Regions from separate parts of the Homo sapiens genome. Here region 1 is linked to region 2. Evidence: fine-mapped expression QTL. A gene starts in region 2. The other region holds a variant in brackets. All regions are shown on one strand. Distances are between the middles of the regions.

What was found. PIP is the estimated chance that this variant, and not a neighbour inherited with it, causes the effect. A credible set is the group of variants that fine-mapping cannot tell apart.
Region 1: its variant is the best candidate, but not a certain one, in a credible set for the expression of COG4 in monocytes after Pam3CSK4 (Quach 2016, PIP 0.52).

The regions. Positions count from the first base shown.
Region 1 is chr16:70,565,256-70,569,640 of GRCh38, forward strand. It overlaps SF3B3 (splicing factor 3b subunit 3), which reads left to right. Exons shown (of 26, transcript NM_012426.5): 19 at 1-15; 20 at 113-269; 21 at 2,156-2,281; 22 at 3,028-3,240; 23 at 3,788-3,886. Among named protein-coding and RNA genes, the nearest start is that of SNORD111, 29 kb to the left of the region's middle. The variant CA/C (reference allele first, on the strand shown) is at 1,796.
Region 2 is chr16:70,521,922-70,526,277 of GRCh38, forward strand. COG4 (component of oligomeric golgi complex 4) reads right to left here and starts at 1,633. Exons shown (of 19, transcript NM_015386.3): 1 at 1,452-1,633. The coding sequence starts at 1,622. SF3B3 (splicing factor 3b subunit 3) reads left to right here and starts at 1,895. Exons shown (of 26, transcript NM_012426.5): 1 at 1,895-2,007. RefSeq lists enhancers at 1,266-1,405, 2,439-3,176.

The DNA of each region.
Region 1 (4,385 bases), 43 kb after region 2:
TGAGGCAGCTTTTAGGTAAGCAGCCCAGGACAGTCCAGGGTTTGGCAGGCTGGAACAGGAGCTCTCTGAGTTTTGACTAAGGCCTTACTCTTGCTTCTTATTCTGTGTGTAGTGTGGCTGTGTGCAGGTTTTCCAACACTGGTGAAGACTGGTATGTGCTGGTGGGTGTGGCCAAGGACCTGATACTAAACCCCCGATCTGTGGCAGGGGGCTTCGTCTATACTTACAAGCTTGTGAACAATGGGGAAAAACTGGAGTTTTTGCACAAGGTAGGAATCTGCCAGTGGTTCTCCTAGATTTTAAGTCCCATTGAATTCTCTCACTTTTGCTTATGTTATGGATCAGGTCTTTTGGGGACCAGCTCCTTGATTCCAATCTCTCTCTTACCAGCACATGGAAAATGCTGGGGCCTTCTAGCTGCAGTGATGTTCTTGTGCCTGTGCATTCCACAGGAAGGCTTTGTGCTAACCATCCATAATGGGGAGATAGATGCACATTCAATTGGTCTCTTTCTTACTGTTTTAATAAGCAGGCAACAATTTGTGACCAAAATTCAGCAGTTTAAATAATTAATATTCTGGCTGGGCGCAGTGGCTCATGCCTGTAATCCCAGCACTTTGGGAGGCCGAGGCAGGCAGATCACCTGAGGTCAGGAGTTCGAGACCAGCCCGGCCAACATGGTGAAAGCCTGTCTCTACTAAAAATACAAAAATCAGCCAGGCATGGCGGCACGCACCTGTAATCCCAGCTGCTCGGGAGGCTAAGACAGGAGAATCGCTTGAACCCGGGAGGCGGAGGTTGCAGTGAGCCGAGATTGCGCCATTGCACTCTAGCCTGGGTGACAAGAGTGAGACTGTCAAAAAAAAAAAAAAGATTTAATATTCTTTTCCACCTGCATTCTCTGGGAAGTTACTGTTTAATGGGTACAGAGTTTCAGTTTGGGAAGATGAAAAAAATTCTGGAGGTGATAGTTACACAACAGTAAATGTGCTTAATGCCACTGAAGTGTATACTTAAAAATGACTGGCTGGGCATGGTGTCTCACGCCTGTAATCCCAGCACTTTGGAAGGCCGAGGTGGGCGGGTCACCTGAGCTCAGGAGTTCAAAACCAGTCTGGTCAACGTGGTGAAATCCCATCTCTATTAAAAATAAAAAATCAGCCAAGCATGGTGGTGGGCGCCTGTAACCCTAGCTATTCCAGAGGCTAAGGCAGGAGAATCACTTGAACCCAGGAGGCAGAGGTTGCAGTGAGCCGAGATTGCGCCACTGCACTCCAGCGTGGGTGACAGAGCGAGACTCTGTCTCAAAAAAAAGAAAAGGATTAAGATGGTAAACTTTATGTTATGACTATTTTACCATAATTTTTAAAATAAAAAGAATATTCTCTTCTCCACAATGACAGCATGTGGATTCCTTCAACCCTACCATAAGGGGAGTATCCTCTAAGAAATACTTCATAGACCCTTTTGCATATTAAATTTGTCTCTCCTTTACAACTGAGATGTCACTAGGCTGGGTGCAGTGGCTCACGCTTGTAATCCCAGCATTTTGGGAGTCTGAGTCGAGCAGGTCACTTGAGCCCAAGAGTTTGAGACCAGCCTGGGCAATGTGGTGAAACTCAGTTTCTACGAAAAATACAGATAATTAGTCAGGCTTGATGGCACATGCCTGTAGTCCCAGCTACTCGGGAGTCTGAGGTGGGAGGATCACCTGAGCCCAGGAAGTCCAGGCTATAGTGAGCCATGATTGCGCCTGCCACAGCCCTTCAGCCTGAGCAGTAGTGAGACCCTGTCT[CA/C]AAAAAAAAAAAAAAAGTCACTTTTCACTAGCATTTCTTTCCTGTCCCTCCACAAATTACAGTCACTTGGCTACTAAGGCTTCACTGTTGAAATAACACCAGTTAAACAGAGCACAAGCTCTGGACAGCAGTCGTCTGGTACCAGAACTTCTTGTCAGTTACAGCATTGATCCCTCTACTGAGTGAATGCAGCATGCGGAACTTGTTCACCCCAACACCCAGATTCATTAGCAAAATAAGCTCACTGGTGTGTTTCTTAATGATAGGCTCCTGTGGAAGTAGGCATTTCTGGGCAGAGAGGTGAGGCCTGTGTCTGGCTGGCATTTATAATAGCTGTATTACCTGCTTTTCCTCTATAGACTCCTGTGGAAGAGGTCCCTGCTGCTATTGCCCCATTCCAGGGGAGGGTGTTGATTGGTGTGGGGAAGCTGTTGCGTGTCTATGACCTGGGAAAGAAGAAGTTACTCCGAAAATGTGAGAATAAGGTAAGTGTGCTGGCATTGGTGCTGAGATCTAGCTCATGTGTCAAGGGTGGGGGCATTGGTGGGGTGGTGGGCATTGAGTTTTAAAATCTTATCTTTATTAGGACTTGTTGTGTTACCCCAATTCCAGCTTCAGAATTATGCCCTTGTTTTTTTGTTTTTTGGTTTTTGAGACGGAGTCTCGCCCTGTTGCCCAGGCTGGAGTGCAGTGGCGCAATCTCGGCTCACTGCAACCTCCGCCTCCTGGGTTCAAGCGATTCTCCTGCCTCAGCCTCCCAAGTAGCTGGGATTACAGATGCGCGCCACCACGCCTGGCAAATTTTTTGTATCTTTAGTAGAGACAGGGTTTTACCATGTTGGCCAGGCTAGTCTCTTAACTCCTGATCTCATGATCTACCCGCCTTAGCCTCCCAAAGTCCTGGGTTTACAGGCGTGAGCCACCGCACCGGCCCTTGAGTTTTGAGAGGAGCAGGAGTAGAGGGATCTCATTTCTTGACTTACCAAACAAGAACCAGCTTTCTATCTTGCTAGCTTCTATAAGGAAAGTAAATGTGAGAGTTAGGCATATATTTGCACTATATTAAAAGCTATTTGGCTCTTTTTTCCCACCTAGAATTCATTGCTAACTGCTGGTTTTTGGTATTTGCTGTTCTGCTGACCCTACGTATGTCATACGGAAAGCTGGGCTTTCTTTGGGTTCTGAACCCCAAGATTACACCCACCATCACTATTGTCTTTGTTTTTCCCAGCATATTGCCAATTATATCTCTGGGATCCAGACTATCGGACATAGGGTAATTGTATCTGATGTCCAAGAAAGTTTCATCTGGGTTCGCTACAAGCGTAATGAAAACCAGCTTATCATCTTTGCTGATGATACCTACCCCCGATGGGTCACTACAGCCAGCCTCCTGGACTATGACACTGTGGCTGGGGCAGACAAGTTTGGCAACATATGTGTGGTGAGTTGATGTTGTTAACTTGGGTTACAGTGATGTGTAGGAAAGCTGGCTCAGTTTCTTGTGGGTAAAGCCAAGGAGGAATCAAATCTGAGAAGTAAAAATGGATATAAAATTCCATCCTACTAAAGCTAACTCTACAAGCAATCTGTTCTTTAAGCCTTCTTACTAGTCTTTTGGATTTTTCTCTGTGGTTTATCTCCCTCCTCCCTATTGAACGTGATTTAATGATAGGTTTAGTTTGAGCTAATGGCTAATATTTCTTTTTACATTTTATAAGAACTTTGGAATGTCTGTTATCTATGTTGTGTGGTTTTGGTTTTACCCTTAGCTGTGTTAAACTCTTGCTCATGGGTCGATTCTTTTGAGTTTCTTGCTCCTCAGACACAGCTCCTGCCCACCAGAGCAGGTGCAGGACACGTGGGCTCAGGCCTCTGTCTAGGCAGTGCCCCTGTGGCTGACTTGCAAAGACCTGGCCAGACCTGTTGCTTGGTGACTCAGGTGAGCAGGTCCGGGCCCCAGCAGTGTGACTTGTGTCACTTCCTTGTAGGTGAGGCTCCCACCTAACACCAATGATGAAGTAGATGAGGATCCTACAGGAAACAAAGCCCTGTGGGACCGTGGCTTGCTCAATGGGGCCTCCCAGAAGGTAAGATTGCAGAATGGGCCCCAGGGAGAACACTGCTTAGCACTTTTCCTGTTGCCCTCACTGAAGAAATTGCCTTTGGTGAATTATTCATAGTGCACACGACTGTGCTGAGTGCTGTCCGTCCACAGTCCTTTCTTACCAATCTGCAAAAAATCTCCTTGGAGAGTAGCGAGTTTCTTAGAGAGAGTCCATTCCCAGTCCTCTGCTCTGAGGTGTGTCCTGGGCTTTACTTTCTCCTGTAGGCATGTGCTGCTTTAATAGAGCATCTCTGGACTTTCGGGCAAATCTATTTTAGAAGACAAGCCTAGTGATTGCTGTTTTCTATAATTTTCTTTGTGTTTTCCTTTTTTATGGCAAGCTTGATAAATTTAACAAAATGATTCTTATCGTAAGAAATGATGAACAGTAACTTTAGCATGTTTTATGAGGCATTAAGCTTTAAGTAAATGTGAGAATTTTAAAATATTTGTAGGGTTTAATAATTTTTGGATTTATTGTT
Region 2 (4,356 bases):
CGATTTCCTGACCTCGTGATCCATCTGCCTCAGCCTCCCAAAGTGCTGGGGTTACAGGAGTGAGCCACCGCGCCAGGCTTTTTTTTTTTTTAAGAGACACAATTTTGCTCTTGTTGCCCAGGCTAGAGTGTAATGGCGCTATCTTGGTTCACTGCAACCTCCGCCTCCCAGGTTCAAGCAATTCTCCTGCCTCAGCCTCCCGAGTAGCTGGGATTACAGGCATGCGTCACCACACCCGGCTAGTTTTGTATTTTTAGTAGTGATGGTTTTCACCATTTTGGTCATGCTGGTCTCGAACTCCTGACTCAGGTGATCCTCCCGTCTTGGCCTCCCAAAGTGCTGGGATGGCAGGCGTGAGCCACCGCGCCCCGCAAGATACTAAATTTTAAAACACATCTTGCTGAGGCCAGACAAAAAAAGCCCCACACACTAAACTAGCCAGGCACGGTGGTGTGCGCCTCTGGTTTCATCCATTCTGATTGCAGCACAACAGCACTCCAGCCTGCGCAACAGAGAGCGGCCCTGTTTCTAAAAATAACAAAACAAAACAAAAAACACCACACACATCTTGCTGAAAAACGTATCAGAAACTGCTAGAGTTAGTGCAAGTTTATACTTGAAAATACTCAAAGATATCAACGATCACCTCTCCCTCAGGCTGAAACTGCCTTTTGTGCTCAACTTTGCTAGAAGTTTGGTCTGGGAAACAGCTGACAAGCTTAGAGCTTAGATCTCTTTTGACTAGCAAGGAACCCAACTGACATTCGAAAGTGAATTGACAGCATCGAGTTGCCACTGAAAATTAAAGGAGGCAGGAAATAGAACGTTATGAACTGAAAGGAATTGGAGAATAGTCCACACCCCTCATTTGATAAAATATCAAGGGTACCAGAGATGAAGTGACTTGTCCAAGATTAGAGAATTGTGTCTGAGTCTTAAAAGCTAAACCTCTACAAAGATGTGCATTTGACCAAAACGCTAAAATCACACCCCCAAATCACTCCCCACAAGAGGAAGTCTTAAAACGCTTCAAGAAGTTAATCTGCAAAGGCTTCCCTCTTAAATAACAGGATGAGAGCGTTTCATAATTTGTAAATTAAGCCAATGCAAAAGGGCGCTTATTATTTTGAGAACCAAGCAATTTGGCAAATACTCTCAGACTAACTTTACTCCCGTGGAGAAACTGGTGATCATGGATCAGGGAAATCAACGGGGGTCTAGGGAGGAGAGGCTGCAGATCGCCCAGGTATCAGGGAAGACAAGCTCGGCGCGTCCGACAGCGTGAAAAGAGTTGACAGGACTACTCATATACCCGACTAGCTTCCGCTTCTTTGTTTTCCCGCTTTTTTGTATCCCCCAGCAAGGAGAGTTTCCCACAGCCCGGATTTCCCGACTGAAGGCTCCCACTCTCCCTAGATCCTCCATGAAAAAGAAGAGGCTCGACCCCGCACCTCCTCGCCGCAGAGCCGTTCGTATACAGCCTCCAGCTCCTGCAGCTCTGTCAGGGAGCGAATGAGCTCAGCGGAGATTTCGGAGCAGCGGCCACCTCCCACCCCCTCAGACGGCTGCTGCACCCCTGACAGCTTCGGAGGCGAATCAAGGTCCGCCATCTTGGTCCCCATTCGGCACTTCCGGTCCCGCGAGGCCCCCTCTTCGTTGGCGCCTATTTGGGGCTGCCCACAGAAGTGCCCAATGAACTCTAATGGTTTTTTTTTTTTAAAGTCTACTTCTAAAAACGTATTAATTTTCTATTCTCCTGGAAAAAGCAAAGCAATAAAGCATGTTTAAATAATTTGTAATGCCGTGTGGAAGCAAGACGGAAGCATTTTTTAAAAATTATATATATTCTTCAGGCGCGGATTGGGTGCCTTTTTCCGCCGCGCGCCACCAGAATGTCCCTGTCTTGAGGTCTAATGGCGGACGCCAGTATGTTGGAGTTGGTGGTGGCTTAAGTTTTGAAGGGAGGTAGCATCCGTTGGATATCCACACCATCCTTCTCGCTGCAGGGTAAAAAAACAGCCTGGAGACTTCCCCGGGCCCGGGGAGGCGGAGACCGGCCATATGGAAGGGGGACCCGAGACTTTGGCGGGGGTCACGGGCAGTCTAGGCCCGAGAGGCTGGGGACCAGGAGGAGGTACCGAGGGATGGTTGAGGCGCCAAAACGGCTTCCTGCAGTTATCTCTCGCTTCCATCCACAGTGTGGGAACATATTCTATCTCAAAATAGGGCTCGTGGAGATTGCTTTTAACTTCTGGGGACTCTGAGACGGGGGAGGTGTGACAAGCAGCGGGAGGCATGGATGTCTCCCTCTGGGTAGAGTAAATGGTACACCGAGGGGAAGATAGAAAGATGGAGCGTGTTAAAAGCGTAAATAACGGAAACAGTCTTTAGAGCCAAGACTCCGGTTTGAATTTGTATTTTGGTAGTTGGGCAACTTGTCTCCTCCTCTGAACCTCTATTTTCTCGTTTGCGTAATGGAGGACAGAGTTTAAATGCGATGATGTTTCCTTGGAGGATGGAGAAGATGCAGTGAGCAATCATACAAGCTTTTTGTAATAATGGTAAACAGACGTGGGGGAAGTTTTTTTTGTTTTGTTTTGTTTTGTTTTTGTGACGGAGTCACAGTCTGTCGCCCAGACTGGAGAGCAGTGGCGCGATCTCGGCTCACTGCCATCTCTGCCTCCCGGGTTCCAGCGATTCTCTTACCTCAGCCTCCCGAGTAGACTAGCTGGGATTACGGGCGCGTGCCACCACGCCCGGCTAATTTTTCTTTTTTTGAGACGGTGTCTCGCTTTGTCGCCCAGGCTGGAGTGCAGTGGCGCGATCTCTGCTCACTGCAAGCTCCGCTTTCCGGGTTCACGCCATTCTCCTGCCTCAGCCTCACGAGTAGCTGGAACTACAGGCGCCCGCCACCGCGCCCAGCTAATTTTTTGTATTTTTAGTAGAGACGGGGTTTCACTGTGTTAGCCAGGATGGTCTCGATCTCCTGACCTTGATCCACCCGCCTTGGCCTCCCAAAGTGTTGGGATTACAGGTGTGAGACACCGCGCCCGGCCCAGACGTGGGGGAAGTTTTAAAGCTTACCAAATTTATCTGGTATGTATTTTTTGTTTGTTTGTTTTGTTTTTGAGACGAAGTCTCGCTGTCGCCCAGGCTGGAGCGCAGCGGCTTGATCTCGGCTTACTGCAGCCTCCTCCTCCTTGGTTCTAGCTATTCTCACGCCTCAGCTTCCCGAGTAGCTGAGATTAAAGGCGTGTGCCACCGCGCCCGGCTAGTTTTTGCATTTTTAGTAGAGGGGTTTTCACTGTGTTGGCCAGGCTGGTCTCAATTCCTGACCTCAAGTGACCCATTTGCCTCGGCCTCCCAAAGTGCTGGGATTACAGGCGTGAGCCACCACTGCGCCTGGCCTCGTATATAGTTTTTCTAGTACTGGACTGATCCTCCGAAATGCACCTTCCTCCACGATCCAAAGTTAAGGTGTCGCTGGAGAACCTGAATCCAACTAGATTTGGGAAAAAATGAATTCCAAAGGTTTGTAATGGATTGTATCAGTTATAAGGAAAGGGGAAAGTAGACTGTTTTGATCAGCTACAAAATATGAAAAGTAACTTGCGGGGAGCTGTTCAGGGATTCAGAAGCAGCTCCTAGCTTCCTCTCTTTTGCTTTTTTTGTTGTTTCTCCACTCCCTGGTCTTTCAACATCGGTCCTTTTCGTTCATGTTTTACTGTGGTCCTAGAACGTTAAACATATACCTTAGTCTATGGGCTGGGCGCGGTGGCTCAACGCCTGTAATCCTAGCACTTTGGGAGGCGGAGGCGGGCGGATCACGAAGTCAGGAGATCGAGACCATCCTGGCTAACATGGTGAAACCCCACTAAAAATACAAAAAATTAGCCGGGTGTGGTGGCGGGCGCCTGTTGTCCCAGCTACTCGGGAGCCTGAGGCAGGAGAATGGTGTGAACCCAGGAGGCGGAGCTTGCAGTAAGCCAAGATGGCGCCACTGCACTCCAGCCTGGGCGACAGATTGAGACGCCTCAAAAAAAAAAAAAAAAAAAAAAAGGAAAAAAAAAAGATATACCTTAGTCTCAAGTAGAAAATTTTATATCTCTCAGGACCCATTTCTAGCCTGGAGCATTGATCTTGCCACCCTGCTTTTGCTCAGCCCAGAAAGTTATTTATGAGGACGTTTACTCATAATTCTCTCTTCTCGTTTAACAATAAAATCAAATATGTATGTTAATTCTATACTAATGACCTTGGATTTCTCAAGGTCCCGTGCTTTTTATTTATTTATTTTTTTTTTTGAGATGAGGTCTCATTCTGTCGCCCAGCCTGGAGTGCAGTGGCATGATGTTG